Homo sapiens: one gene and its partner. The protein of the gene in region 2 interacts with the protein of the main gene of each other region in a pairwise test. Each region holds a gene or a part of one and is shown on either strand. Other genes may lie near its edges.

Region 1 (7,807 bases), on a different chromosome or scaffold from region 2:
AGCTCTCCTGGGAAAAGATGTAGGGACCACAAATTGCTGGTCTTTTCTCAACCACCACAAACCCGGAGGGTTGGGGAAAGGCAGGGTGCCATGTCTTCTCACTCCCTCCCATCCCCAAAGCTGAGCCCTTCTGGTAGGTTATGCCTGTCCTAGAAAATGTCTCTTGTGTGCCTGGACCTGTAGTTCAGAAGGTCAAAATTGGTCCCTCTTGCTCCTGGCCCCACTCTACCTTTGCCAGCTCAGTTTCCTTATCTGCAAGGTGGGGAATGGGGTGGGGTTTGGCAGCAACAAACCCCACTGTGTGTGAAACCTTCCAGTTCACAGCCAACAAAGCGTTGCTCTCAATTCTCTGAAGCCAATTACCACCTCGGAACCCCAGCTTTTTCCAGGGATAAGATTTGTCTCTGACCTTGCCTCCCTAACCAGGTCTCTGAGACTTGAATGAGAATGCTTAAAACTACCAGAGTATCTTCTGTATGATAAAAGATGAATCGAGGGGTCAGAGACATGACTGATGATATGGTAAGGGATCCTGAATCTGCTTCCATGGTAACTTGGGCTTTTTCTCCTGCTCCAAGCTGTCTGAGGGCCCACCACCTGTCTGGCCTGACCAGGGCCTGCCCTTTCCTGCACGGAAGTGGATGCAGGCAACCTGGATTCTCTGGGGTGCACCCCACATCCCCACTCAGCACTACATCTGCCATACAGAAGTTCAATAAATGCCTCAGCTACTCTGAAATGCCTTCAGTAACTTGACCTTTTATATTCCCCAGCTAATGTCTAATTTGCATATATGAGTCCTTTTTAGGAGATGGCAAATCACCAGAGAAAACGCAGGATCAATACAGAGTATTAGGCACGTTCTATTCTACTCTAATTCTCTGCAAATTGGTATTCCATTAACTGCATGTGGGATTTATGGGAGCTCGCTATAAACTAGAATATTTAACTAGAATGGCCTACTCTGTCAGATAATAGCTTACTGTTGTTAATTTTCAACTAGTCAATCTCAGAAAAGTTTCCAACTTCCAATATACTTCACATCTTGATTTAATCATCCGGAAAGTCATCCATATCAAAGCCTCCATACAACAAAGGGACAGGCAGCTTGATGCAGAAGAAAAAGACCTGCCCTTGGAACCAGGAGACTTGGGTTACACCCCAGCTCTACCACATACTGTGTAATTGGCTGCTCAGAGCCTCCATGTCCTCATCTGTAAAATGGGAGTGACACCAGTCTCACAAGGGAGTTGTAAAGATTAAATAAGACGATACAGGTGAATGTACTCTGTAAGTTCTATAAGGCTATGCAAAGGTTAGTTATTACAAAAGCACAAGATGAAATTCTCAAACAACTCGGGCTAATGACAGAAAGCAAGAATTAAATTGGTGGTTCTAAAGGGGTGCTGGGGTGGCATTTTGCTCCCTAGGGGACATCTGACAATACTGGAGGCATTTTTGATTGGAACAACTGGGGAACAGGAATTGCTACTGGAATCTACAGACCAGGGATGCTTCTAAACCCTACAATGCCCAGGACACAAAGAATTATCAAACCCTAAATGTCAATAGTGCAAGGCTGAGAAACCCTGATCTAAATAATCGCTTAAAGTTGGATTTGGGAGCTTTTTAAAACAGAAATCTTCCTAAGCAGGCTTTACTTTCTCCCATCATCTGCTTAAACATTTGCAAGATGGATCATCTTGCAAAACAGCTCTTTTGTAAGTGAAGCCAACTGCCAACTTCTGGAGTTTCTGAATGTATAAAACTGCTTTTAAAGGAGATGCTCTCTGATTACAATTCGGCTAAATTGTTTTTCCGAAGGCCTTGACTTCGGCAGAAGTTCTCCTGGGCACAGAGACAGGGTCTGTCACTCCACCACTAGGCCCTGAAGATGGTTTCCTAATTCTAATTTCCTCCTGAAATGAGAGCCACGAGGGTCTCTAAACGAATTAAATTCACATCACGCCAACTGCTTGCTAGCTTTGTGCCGGGCACGGTGCCAAACACCTCCACATAATTTATCCCACTTAATCCACTCAACAACCCAGCGAGGTGGGCATTATTACCAGCTGATTGCAAGGGAGGAAACTGAGGACCAGAGAGGTTAAACAACTTGCCAAGGTCACCAGCTGGCCAAGGGGGAGCCCAACTTGAACGGAGGTCTCCAGTTTCCAAGTCACAAGCTCTTTCCACCAGCTTGGAAAACCCAGGTGTCAAGTTGTCTCAACTTCCCATGAATTTTTAAGGCAACCGCAACTTCTCAGTAAGTTTAGGTAGCTGAAAATGGGAATTTCGGGGGGGCTGGGCACTCTCACATACACTCCCCCATCTGCAGCTGTCTCACCGCAGGTACCTGATAAATCATTCCATATCGTCCGCGGAACGGGGAGGATTTATTGGCTCTGGAGTTTCGTGCCAGGCCCAGGAAATGCCATCTTTGAAAGCCGAGAGGCGGATTCGCCCTGGGAGCCGAGCGCTGGCAGCCGCTCTCGGCTAGCTCCCCGCGGGCTGTGTGCCCCCTCGGAGCCCCGAGCCGGGGTCGCGGCGGCACGGGGTCCTCCGGAGGTGCCGGACGCACGGGCTCCGCGGGTTGCGCCCGCCCCTGCCCGGCTGGAGCGCACGCCCACGCTCCGGCGCCGCGTCCCGGCCGCCAGCCCGCCCCGGCCGAGCCCCACCCGGCGCCCCGCCCGCGCCCTCCCGCCCCGGCCCCGCCAGGTGAGCGCAGCGGGGCGCCCCCTCCCCGCCCCGACGTGGTGCGGGGATCCCGGTGCAGCCGCACCCGCCAGCCCGCCCGCGCGTCCGCCGCGCGCCCCAGGGACGGGTGGGGGCGGGGTGGCGCCGAGCGCGACCCCGGCCCCCGGCAGCCCCGCACCCTGCCCCCGGCCCGCTGGGGTCGCACGGGCCCGTACCTGCAGCATCCGGGGGCGCGGAGCGCCCAGGTAGGTCGCGCGTGCGGGCGGCGCGGAAGCTCGCTCGCGGCGCGACCTGGCCGCCGTCTGAGCATGCCCAGTGCCGCCCGCGGGCGGTTCCCGCCGGCCGGGCTGGCCGCGACGGGCCCGCGCGCCGGGCGGGGGGCGGGCGTCCGGGCTGGCCTGCGGTGTTCTCCCGCCCCCGCCCCGGGCTGGCGCGCCCCGACGCATCTCCTAGGGGCACCGGGGCTCTCCGCCGAGCTCCGGGCAGGTCCTGAGTTCCCTCGCGCATGCATGCAGCCATTCGTTCCACAGCCATGACTGGGCACCTACTGTGTGCCAGGCCCTCAGTGATTTCATGCCTAGGGAAGGCAAGAAGTCGGCGCCCAAAGAAACTTTGAAATGAGGAGTCTTGCACGACGGGTGCGCGGTTGAGCTGAGGTCCCGCTGACTTCCAGTCCAGTGCTCGTCCCTTGGCACTAGTAAGCTTCCCTGGTTAAACCTCCCCAAGGCTCGTGGGACCCCTACCTGATCTGTGCTCCTGCTTCCCACCTCCGTCTCATCTCACACCTGCCTTCCTGCGGATCCTAGAGCGCCTTTCTGTCCATCAAACACTCGAACTTCACTAACCTCAGGACATTGGCGCCCGCCTTTCCCTCTGTGGGACGTTCTTGCCCAGCTTTTCACGTGGCCGGCGCCTTCTCATTGTACATAGGTCCCCTCCTCAGAGAGGCCTTTCCTGACCACCTTCCTCGATTAGCCCTCTGCTCCTGACCACTCCGTGTACTCTGTTTTCTTCATAGCATTTAACAGTGATTTATCCATTTTCAGCAAATATTTATTGAGCACCTATTCTGGTTTTTCTCGCGTGGGGAACAAATAGACAAAAATTCTGTCCCCCAGTGGAGTTTGGGGAAAGAGGGACAGGTAACAGATAAACAGCAAATTAGCAAACTATGCATTATATTAGAAAGTGATAAGTTCTAAGAGGAAAAAGAGCAGGGTCAGGAGATTTGGGGCTGGAGGTAAGCAGTGAATTTTCAGTGAAGCGGTCGGATAGGGCCCTTGAGCTGATGGACGGTCTGATTGGGTGACACTGAGAAGGTGATAGTGGTATTTCAGCCACGCAGATAAGCAGGGAAGAGCATTCCTGGCCGAGGGAACAGCCAGTGCCAAGACCCAAAAGAGCGCCGGACCGCTTAGGGAACGGCAAGGAGGCAGAGGAGCAGATGAGGTTGGTCACTTTGGCTTTTCCTCCGATTTGTTTAATTCTCATGTTGTATTTCCCTCCTAAATGTCAGCTTTGGGGCTGTAGCTCTGCTTGTCTTTACTGCAGTGACCCCCCTGCAACACTGTCTGGCACACACTAGGCGCTCAAACATTATTTGTTGAATATGTGAACGAAGGGATGCAGAGATGGTTGGAACCCTCCAGTCGGGCCTGGGTGCCAGGTCCTGGGGGCAGTCGTTCCAGGGATAGACTGAGGCCTCGGCAGCCCCTGGAACCTCATTTCGGTCCTTGTCCCGGAGTCGCACGTCCCGGGATAGCGCCGCTGCAGCGGGTGCCGCCCGTGCATCGCGTCGGGGGGATTTCCGACGGAGCCCGGAGTCCAGGGGCAGGACCGCCCGCGCCCCGCCCGGCCCGGCCCGGCCTCGAGTCGCCAGCAAAACCTGGAGCCGCGGCGCCCGCTCAGCACCACTCGGACGGGCGGGGAGCGCACTGGGCATGCTCGGAGCCGGGCGGGGCCGGAGCCCCCGGAAGGAGGAGCCCCCTGGAGGGGCAGGCGACGCCCCCCGCAGAGCTCCACCCAGCGCCCCCGGGCTCAGCAGGAGGCATTCTCTGTCCTTTCCCCACTGCCTTATCCTCTCTGTGCTTCAACCATTGTGAATACCTACGCTTCGATCTGGGCACCCGAGTGGAAGTTGAGTGAAATAAGGAACGTGAACGTGTTTAGACCACCTTAAAGATCCATTTCTTGAGTGCCTACCAAAATCAGCCGTCATCCTCATGCCAGTTTGCCAACTGCTGAGATGAGGAAACCGAGGTCAACGGAGGATGTGTGAATTTTCGAAGTTGTCTTAATCTGCTGACCCCTAGACTGAAATTACCTTTTCTTTTCCCACAGCTAACAGCTGTTAGCTTAAACGATGCCCTCAACTTTGAGCTAGGAACATGCTTACACCTAAAGGAAAGACCTAAATATTTTAAAAATCATGCGTTTTAAATCACCATAACAGAAGCAGGAACAAAATGAAAGAATACTCCCCAAATTGGAAACAAACTAAGTACTCAATAACAGAGGGATGATTAATTAGGTTATGGTATATTAGTTGAAATAATAACTATCTTACACTAAGTTAAAAAGACCATGTTGCAACAGGGAAAACACGGTACAATGTTAAATGAAAAAAAAAAAAACCGCAGAAAACAGGTCGGGTGAGGTGGCTCATGCCTGTAATCCCAGCACTTTGGGAGATCCAGGTGAGAAGGTAGCTTAAGCCCAAGAGTTCAGGACCAGCCTGGGCAACATAGCAAGACCCCATCTTTACAAAAAAAAACTTATCCAGGTGTGGTGGCATGCACCTGTGGCCTCAGCTACATGGGAGGCTGAGGTGGGAGGATCTCTTGAGCCAGGAAGGTCAAGGCTGCAGTGAGTTGTGATGGCACCATTTGTACTTCAGCCTGTATGACAGAGCGAGATTCTGTCTCAAATAAAAAAAAAAAAAAAAGCTAAAAACACAAATAGATTGTATAAACATGGTGTTGACACATTCACCAAGACTGGAAGGAAATATGGGAAAATTAACTAGTCATTTTTTTGGAGTAGTAAGTTTGGGTGTTTTTTAAAAGTTTATTAATGTCACAATGACATGTTTGCAATAATAAGCATTTAAAAGATCAAATTAAAAATTCTTGTTTTGTGTATATCCAGTTACAGTAACTGCTATTATCAAGCTCAAGTACGATGAATATTTTATATATATTCTCTCTTTAATCCTTACCATCACTCTACAGAGTGGGTGTTTTAGCTCAGTTTTACAGAAGAGAAAACAATCTAGGGGCTGTTCACAGCTGTTAAGGGGGTGAGGATTTGAACACAAGTCAATCTGATCTCAAAGTCAGGGTGTTAGGTTTTAGGACACACTGCCTCTCTGTGTAGTAGATTACCATGTATTGATGATAAGAGAAGCTATATGTCATCTAATTTTGTAGGGTTTTTTGCCTTATTTTCTCTACCCTTTGATGTGTTTGTAGGCTACAGATTACCTTTAAATGTTCTAGTCTCCTGTTACTGTTTTATTCTTGGGGCCAAAATGTTAAAGTCTATCCTTTTAAGCTGTTGCATCTGGAGTGACATAAGGTTATTATTACCAATGACAGTTGATCTTATATCATAAGCTCCCAAACCTTACGTAAATGGGGCTTTTGAATGGGCACATAATCTTCTTAGGCTATTGTTGAACTCAGCCAAGTGTAGAGCAAATTAAAGCCCAATTGGGAATAGAGCTGTACTCAGTCCCAGATCGACTGGTCCAGAGAGGACCCACATAGATTATCGTCTCTGGGCATTCACTTTGGAGGCAGGATCACAACATGATGGAACCACCTGGTCCATGGACTCCTCAGGGACTTTTCTGTGATGAAATGACAGAGAGCTGATAGTCCTGATGATGTTTGCTGAGAGAAAGCCAGGACCGTAAGAGCAGCCCTCCTCCTGCGAAGCTCAAAAATATAGTCACCTCTCTCTCTTAGTGCCAGTAGACTGTACCTGGCTGAAAGATCCAGAAACCGTGAAAAACAATAACAACAAAGAAAACAAAAGAGCATCATTTTATTGGAGAGTAAGATACGCTACAAACTGAATATACATCACAGGTAATGGACCAGATTCGTAAAAGAGGAACAAGAGATGAACATCTAAACATAGTTATTAGCAGCATTCCCAGAAGCTGCCATTGGGGCAGAAAATCAGGTGCCAGGCACTGTATGCAGGCAATTGGTTAAGGGAATTTATAGGAAGAGTTTCCTGGAAGAATCACTGAGGATTGTCATTCGCATCAAGACTTGGGAAGTCTGCCCTACTTGTACTGCTCCAGTGATTTACAAAGCAGTGCTCTGAGCTGAGATGCTAATGCTCATCAATTATTTGTGCTGTTAATGCAAGCTTATGAAGAGCCCGAGAATCCATAAATACATGGGCAAGTGGTGCTGTTAGAATGACATGAAAAGAATATGATGTAAAATACACATGGTATGGTATGTGGGAATTCAGTAGGTTGAACTATAAATTGCCAGGCAGGGTGCAGTGGCTCCCACCTGTAATCCCTGCACTGTGCGAGGCTGAGGTGGGAGGATTGCTTGAGGACAGGAGTTTGAGACCAGTCTGGGCAATGTAGTGAGACCCTGTCTCTACAAATAAGAAAAAAATTAGCTGGATGTGGTGGCACCCATGTGTGGTCCCAGCTACTTGGGAGACTGAGGTGGGAGGATCACTTGAGTCAGGGCGGTTGAGGCTGCAGTGAGTCCTAGTTGTGCCACTGCACTCCAACCTGGACAACAGCAAGACTCTGTCTCAAATAAATAAATATGAAATTGCCATTTTATGGGTCAAAATGGTTGAACATCGGTAACTTCCTGTATTTCAATTTAATGCATACACATAGAACAAAAACTAGAAAAACTGCACCAAAATATTATTGGTGGTGTGTCTGACTATTGCATTTATGTGCAGAGAGGCAGGCTACAGAAGTTATCTTTTACAAATTAGGAGAATTTCAAGTCTTTGGGTGTCTATTTTTTGTATGTCTTTATAGTTCTCTAAATCTTATGTATGTTTCTTTCATAATCTGGAAAAATGAAACAAATTCAAAAGTTGGCAAGCTAAAGAAAATGAT
Region 2 (7,018 bases):
GCTCATCTACTCTCTACCATGCGATTTACATGCCTTGTTGCCATATTCAATGTAATTCTTACACAACAACCCTGTCAGAGAGATATTATTATTATCCTCATTGATACAACAGTAAACAAGTGTAGAGGAACTGAAAGAGTTAATTCACGTGATGTGCTTAAAACAGTACCTGTCATATGAAGAGGCCAGACTAAATTGCTATTATTATTATTGGTAAAAATAATGCTATGGCTTTGTCAGGCATTTTGGGTGTTACAGAGTCAGTTTTACCAAACGGTCTTTTAGATTACAGTATTTAGCACACTTTTAGGGATATTACAAGAAACAGCCATATATCTAATAGAGGGTAGAGTAATTTGTGCACAGTCACAAAACAATTAAGTGGTGGAGCCAGGATTTGAACCCACTTCTCTGTAGAGAAGTCATTTGCTGTATCTTTACTCTAGTTTGCCTCCTTGGCCACAACTCTCTATTAGATACATGGCTGTTTCTTGTAACACTTCTTAAAGTGTCCTAAATATCATAATCTAAAAGACCACTCAGTAAAACTAATTCTGTAACACCCAAAATGCCTGATGGCATTTTTTTTTTTTTTTTTTTTGGACGGAGTCTCGCTCTGTCGCCCAGGCTGGAGTGCAGTGGTGCGATCTTGGCTCACTGCAAGCTCTGCCTCCTGGGTTCACGCCATTCTATTTTTTACCAATAAATAGAGCTATTTAGTCCATCCTCATCATATGACAGGTACTGTTTCAAGCACTTCACATGAATTAACTGTTTCAGTTCCTCTACACTTGTTTGCTGTTGTATCAATGAGGATAATAATAATATCTCTCTGACAGGGTTGTTGTGTAAGAATTACATTGAATATGGCAACAAGGCATGTAAATCGCATGGTAGAGAGTAGATGAGCTTGGCATGTGGTACACGTGTAACATTTGGTAGCTGTTTTTTATAAGGACCTCTGTTTATATGTTGCACTATATGTGTATCCTGCTCTTTCAGTTCCCAAAACATACAAATGAGATAGTTATTAGTATTATCCTAACCAATTAACAGGTTAGGAAACTGAGGCACAGAGCTATTGCCATCTGCCCAAGGTTATGCATCTAGTTGGTGGAGGAGCCAGGTTAGAATGAATCAGTTCAGCTCCAGAGTCCACAATGCACCCCTAATCACTATTCCATACTGTCTCCAATCACTATTCCATACTGTCCTCCAAGCGAAATTCTCTCCTCTGTTAGAATCCAGAGGCCTTCGAAAGGCACATTTAAAAAAACAATTGTACTAACATAACATAAAATAAGTGAGAATCACTAATTCTTATTACTTGAGTTTTAGAGATGCCTTTCGATTTTATCACTTCTAGTAACACGCTATAATTCAACTGGCCAAGCTCAGTGACAAGCCAGGATGACGGTGGCAGAGCCCGCCCGGAGCAGCGCACCTTGGGGGTCATGCCGTTGGTGATGCAGAAGGCCAGGTGCTGCAGGATGCTCTCCATGCTGTGGTAGTTCTGCTGCCGGGTGATGCGCAGGTACTTCTGGAGAGCCCTGGCCATGGAGGGGAAAATGGCCTGGGCGGCCTCCCTAGGGTCCATCACCTCCCCTGGGGCTTTCTGCTGCTCCTCAGCCTGGAGACGCTGAATGTGGATGAAGGCCTCTTCCACTGCAACCACCAGCCTAGAAGGTGATGCAACACTAAGTAATCAGGATGGTGCCTGCCACAGGGTGTGAGAACAGAATGACGCTTGTCTACCCTGCTGCGGCCCAACCTGCCAACATACCCAAGGCCCAATCACGCTGCTTGCATCCTTAGCTGTCCCTCAGAGAGTGGAGAGGGAGGAAGGGAGAAAGAAAGGCAACAGCAAAAATAACATGTGGAACAGGGGCCCCAGGGGTTGGGGGAAAGGAGCCCCAGGACTGGGAGATGAACTCTGTTCTGAATTCTGCCACCAATGAGCTTGGGAAATGCACTAGTCCTTTTTTCATCTCTGCAATGGTTAGATGAAAAGAGTTCTGAGGCCCCTCCGACTGGCTATAAAAGGCTCTGTACAGAGAGAGGTGGCTGGTGGTGCAGAAGCAGCCCTACAAAGAAGCAGAGCTGCGTGCTCCCTGGTCCAGCCACCCACACCAGCAGCCCCTGGGAAACAGGAAGAGGCACAGCACACATGATGGAATGCACCTCTGTCCCCTTCAGTGAATATGACCTGACGGTGAACACCAGCAAGGGTCCAGGGGTGCAGAACAGACCCACTCAAGTATGGGCTGGGGGCCAGGAGCATCAGCATCACGCAGGAATCTGTTAGAAATGCCATTTCTTGGGCCCAACTCCACACCTATTGGGTAGGGTCTCTGCAAGCAGGGCCCAGAACCTGCTGCCTGTATTTGAACAGCCCTCCCAGTGATATTCATACAGGCTTCAGTTTGAGAAACACTGGAGCAAGGTGCACTCCAAAGGTGTCCCAGCAGGTCATGTTTTTAAACAGAAACCTCATTCTAGTGGTAAGAAAGGAAAGATTGAAAGTCTACAAGAGGCCGGGCATGGTGGCTCATGCCTGTAATCACAGTACTTTGGGAGGCTGAGACAGGCACATCACTCGAGGTCAGGAGTTTGAGACCAGTCTGGCCAACATAGCGAAACCCCATCTCTACTAAAAATACCAAATATTAGCCGGGCGTGGTGGTGGGCGCCTGTGATCGCAGCTATTTGGGAGGCTGAGGCATGAGAATCACTGGAACCTGGGAGGCAGAGGTGACAGTGAGCCAAGATCTTGCCACTGCACTCCAGCCTGGGCAACAGAGTGAGATTCTGTCTCTAAATAAATAAATAAATAAATAAATAAAATAAAAATTTAAAAGTCTGTAAGAGGGTACTGGCATCAGGAGGGCAGTATACCTTGCTTTCCGCTTCTTTACTCGCCGTTCATGTTCGGCCTCTTCATAATACAACTCGTTGTGGCTTGAGTCCCTGCGCCGAGCAGCTGCAGCAATCATGGCCCGGGACTGGCCAGTGGCATTGTTACTGGGGCCTTTGGGGAAAGGACAGTGAAAGAATAGTGTTAATACCACGAGGGTGGGAAACAGAGCAGAAAACTAGTACCCAATCTGTCAGTGTTGTCTACCCACCCCCTATGGAACACACACACACAAATCCTAAAGGTCACTTCCCAGGAGGGTGAACTGTGCCCCGGCTCCACATTCACTATGTCCAAAGCAAGGGAGCAGAGGAATCTCCCTAAACCCCAATCTGGTCAGTGGAAATGGAAAAAGAACTCAGAAGGGCATGAAGAACGGTGGCAATTAAAATGTTGGCCAAAAACAACACATAGAGTGTGCTGAAGATGTTACCATCTGTTACATAAAGTTTCAGTTTGGCCATAAGGGCGGCTGGGACATCAAATTTCAGCAAGACAATGAGACAGAATGAGAGGGATGGGGAGACCAAGGACAGACAGACAGACAGACAAAAAAGAAAGTCAAAGGACATGAGACACTGAGTCTACAATGGAAAGCAAGCTATGCTAGAATGTCATGGCAGCCACAACTTTTCTAGGAAATACCAATGCTTGAGGGTGTGCAACGTGACCCGTTAATGAATACAGACTCAGAAGTCCTGTCCTGTCCCCTGACCACTGACCACCTTAACTTTTCAGAAACATAGGCAGATTTCAGGCTTTCTTACGGATGATCTACTTGGCTGGTGACTTGGTTTCACTAGTGGGAATCTTTCCTAAGTTTTTAGATCACAGGTGAAATTTATCAATCCTTCAGGCTTCGTGAGGGAGCTCACACCTCATATAGCCAAAAAAAAATGAACAAACAAATAACTGAAAGGATATTGCCAACAAAAACTGACACTGTATATAAATCACTTGACTTGTTGAAAATATAATCCTCTCCTAGGGTTTGCAAAGTTCTTGCCCTCACCCAACATACCCAGGAAGAAATGACACCGCATCCTGTTTCTTGCACTTAACCATGTGATACCCTGAAACATAGCTTGGACTTACCCAGCCTGGCCTCCAGCCTCCTGCCACCCACTCAACTCCGGCTCCTAGCCACGAGTAAGAAGTGCCCGCAGGTATCTCACCAGATGCCTGGACTACTGAGATTTCTAGTCTTAATGATTTAGGTAGCTTTCTGAGTTTGTGGGTAATGTGCACCAATTTTGAAAAGCAACCCTTTCCTAACAGCTTCCAATATAAGATGATCCTGGCAGAAGGCAGGAAACACACACCGCTGCTGTTTTCAATCATAAAATCCCAAAATGAACAGGCTTCCAACACAGGTAGATGGTAAATCAACATTCCTCTAAACATGTGTCTGCCTACATAAAAAAGAGAAATTGTTCTGAAACAAGAATGTACCATAAAGGTAGGCCCAGAGAAGAAGTCGAACCAAACGTACCATGAATCTTAAATAGTCACCCAACTGTGCCCCTGTGAGCACCACGGACACCCTTTCAAGGCACATACCATCTACATTGTAGACTTTCAGCCCGGCCATATGCTTGGCTGCTCGGAATTTGGAGGCTGTTAGGAGGTTTGGGTTATAGATGGTGAAATCTTTGTAGTAATTTTCTAGGACCACCAATGCTGCTCGCTGGATACTGAGAAAAAAAGAACAAAATTAATGCAAAGCTTTTTCACTGAAGAAGCAGGTCCTAAACGAAAAATCCTCTTTTGGAGTCAGGTAAAGGAACACAACATCAAAGATAATCTCATACAGAAGTCCACTGGGTTCCACCACACTTCTGGTCTCCAGGATGAGAACTTAAAGCTGAAACTAAGCCCCATGGCCAGGTGACTTCTGTGCCCTCTCCTGGACCTGTGATTAGCCACATCCCATCTAGCCCTTTGTTGAAAGAGGAAGAAGTTGTAACTCATAACTTACATTTAGCTTTAGGCACACAAGAACTTTTTCTATTTTTCCTCGGTTTACAAAAGAAGAAACTGAGGATGCCCCCAAAAGGGCAAGAGACTTACTAATGGTTGCAGAGCTAATGAGTGAAAGAACAAAGTATAGATTCAGGTTTCTCAGGTCCTCATTCAGGGTTTTGTCCCCTAGGCCTTGGTATCCCTGGGTATAAGGAATCCTGGAACTTAGGTTTTATACAGACCAGAACAACTGCAGCCATCCAGGGCAGAGCGTACTTAAGAGGGCCTTGGCCACGCGCGGTGGCTCACGCCTGTAATCCCAGCACTTTGGGAGGCTGAGGTGGGCAGATCACCTGAGGTCAGGAGTTTGAGACCAGCCTAACCAATATGATGAAACCCCGTCTCTACTAAAAATACAAAAATTACCGGGGTGTAGTGGCATGCACCTGTAATCCCAGCTACTCGGGAGGCTGAAACGGGAGAATCACTTGAACCCAGGAGGCGGAGGTTGCAGTGAGCCGAGACTGCACCACTGCACTCCAGCCTGGGCAACAAGAGTGAAATTCAGTCTCAAAAAAAAAAACAAAAAAAACAACAAAAAAAAGAGAGCCTCCGCTGAGACCACTTGATCTTTCTGGGTCCCCCTGCCCCTTGGAGTGCTATCTCTGGCCTTTGGCAGAGGGGTATGAAGGTGACTATCTATGTTCCGATATTCTAGGTCTCCAACTATCCCCTGCTTGGTCCTCAGAGAGCAGCAGGGGAACAAAGAACAGGTACCATCAACAAGTGGGAGAGAGGATGTGGGAGGGTACTTATAATTGGAAATGAGTATAGACAGCAAAAGAATATGCCCTTGGTCTATGGTGCAGAACACTTGCCACTTTGAAGAACACCTTGCAATGATACAGCAAGGGTTTGCACATACCTGATTCTCATTTAACCCTCACAATCATTCGAGGTAAGAAAACTGAGGCTCAAAAATCTATGACCTGCACAACAGTATGCATTTAATAAACAGGAGAGCTGGAACTCTGATATGATTTACAAACCTCCAAGTTGGGCTTCCCGGTAACATGCGGACTCTGTGTAACAGCGTACGTGCTGACATCTCCAACCACCACCATGTTAAATACCACAGATATATTTTTATCTTGCCCTTTGGATTTTCCTTTCTAGTACTCTGCTAAGCAGATCGGCTTACAAGGATTATTTGCAGTAGCCAGAGCACCAGGATGGGGCTCCCTTTGATTCCTGGATGACCACACTGTGTTCCAACACTCTCCAGGTGGCTCAGGGATCCTCACTTCACACCAAGACAAGGGAGCTCCTAAACTATCCACTGGAAATTCTGTCTACCCACCCATTTGGCTCCCCTTGGAGCTCTGCTTCAAGACTTGAACAGAATTGAATATGGAAGTCAGTCAGCTAACCTGCTTAAGAGCAGAATCATGGTAAAACTTTCTGAGTTATATCCCCAACAGTGCCCGCATTCAGTTGGTACTTAATATCGTCCTAGATAATGTACAGTCATGTGAGGCTGGGGAACACTATCAGGGGAAATCCGGTGAGACCAACTTTGCATAATGGAAGTAAACCTAAGACTCCTAACAGCAAATCTGCATTTTGAAAATTCTGACCATTCAGTTACTCAGTTGTTCACTCGTCATTCCATATTTGAGTGCCTGTGTCTGCTAAGCCCTGGGAATATGAAGATAGACCTTAGCTGGTACCTGGAGCATGAACCCCATGACAGTGAGTATGTTCTCATGCTGGAACACGTGGGGCTGAGTAACCACGGAGAAGAGCTTCTGGCTGCCTGGGACAGGGTGCAGCCTTCCTGAGGAGGCGGACTTCCGTGGAGGTTTGTGTGTCACGAGAGCTCTTCCTGCAGAAGTCTAGTCTGCTTGCCCTGAAGGTCTCACCTGGCAATCTCCAAGTCAATGTGGCTCCAACTCCGTCCTTGCCCCCTGTCCATGGCATTCTCCAGAGAGGGGCAAGTGTTTCTTTATTCCTACCCCATCCAGAGATTCATTGCAACCCTCTCCCTGATCTCTCTCTCTCTCTCTCTCACATACACACACACACACACACACACACACACACACACACACTCCCTGGTGTGTGCCTAGCTCAGCTCCCACC

Evidence for each region. Proteins that work in one complex are often made in the same cells at the same time.
Region 1: the proteins of VANGL1 (region 2) and PTPN3 interact in binary tests that used the Homo sapiens proteins (3 or more experiments, as listed by UniProt).

What each region holds. Positions count from the first base shown.
Region 1 is NC_000009.12:109,495,307-109,503,113, forward strand, and holds the start of PTPN3 (tyrosine-protein phosphatase non-receptor type 3), read right to left. Parts: upstream 3,002-7,807; 5' UTR 2,913-3,001; intron 2,631-2,912; exon of another isoform or gene 2,357-2,630; intron 1-2,356.
Region 2 is NC_000001.11:115,679,954-115,686,971, reverse strand, and holds part of VANGL1 (vang-like protein 1), read right to left. Parts: intron 4,609-7,018; coding exon 4,475-4,608; intron 3,029-4,474; coding exon 2,896-3,028; intron 1,680-2,895; coding exon 1,445-1,679; intron 1-1,444.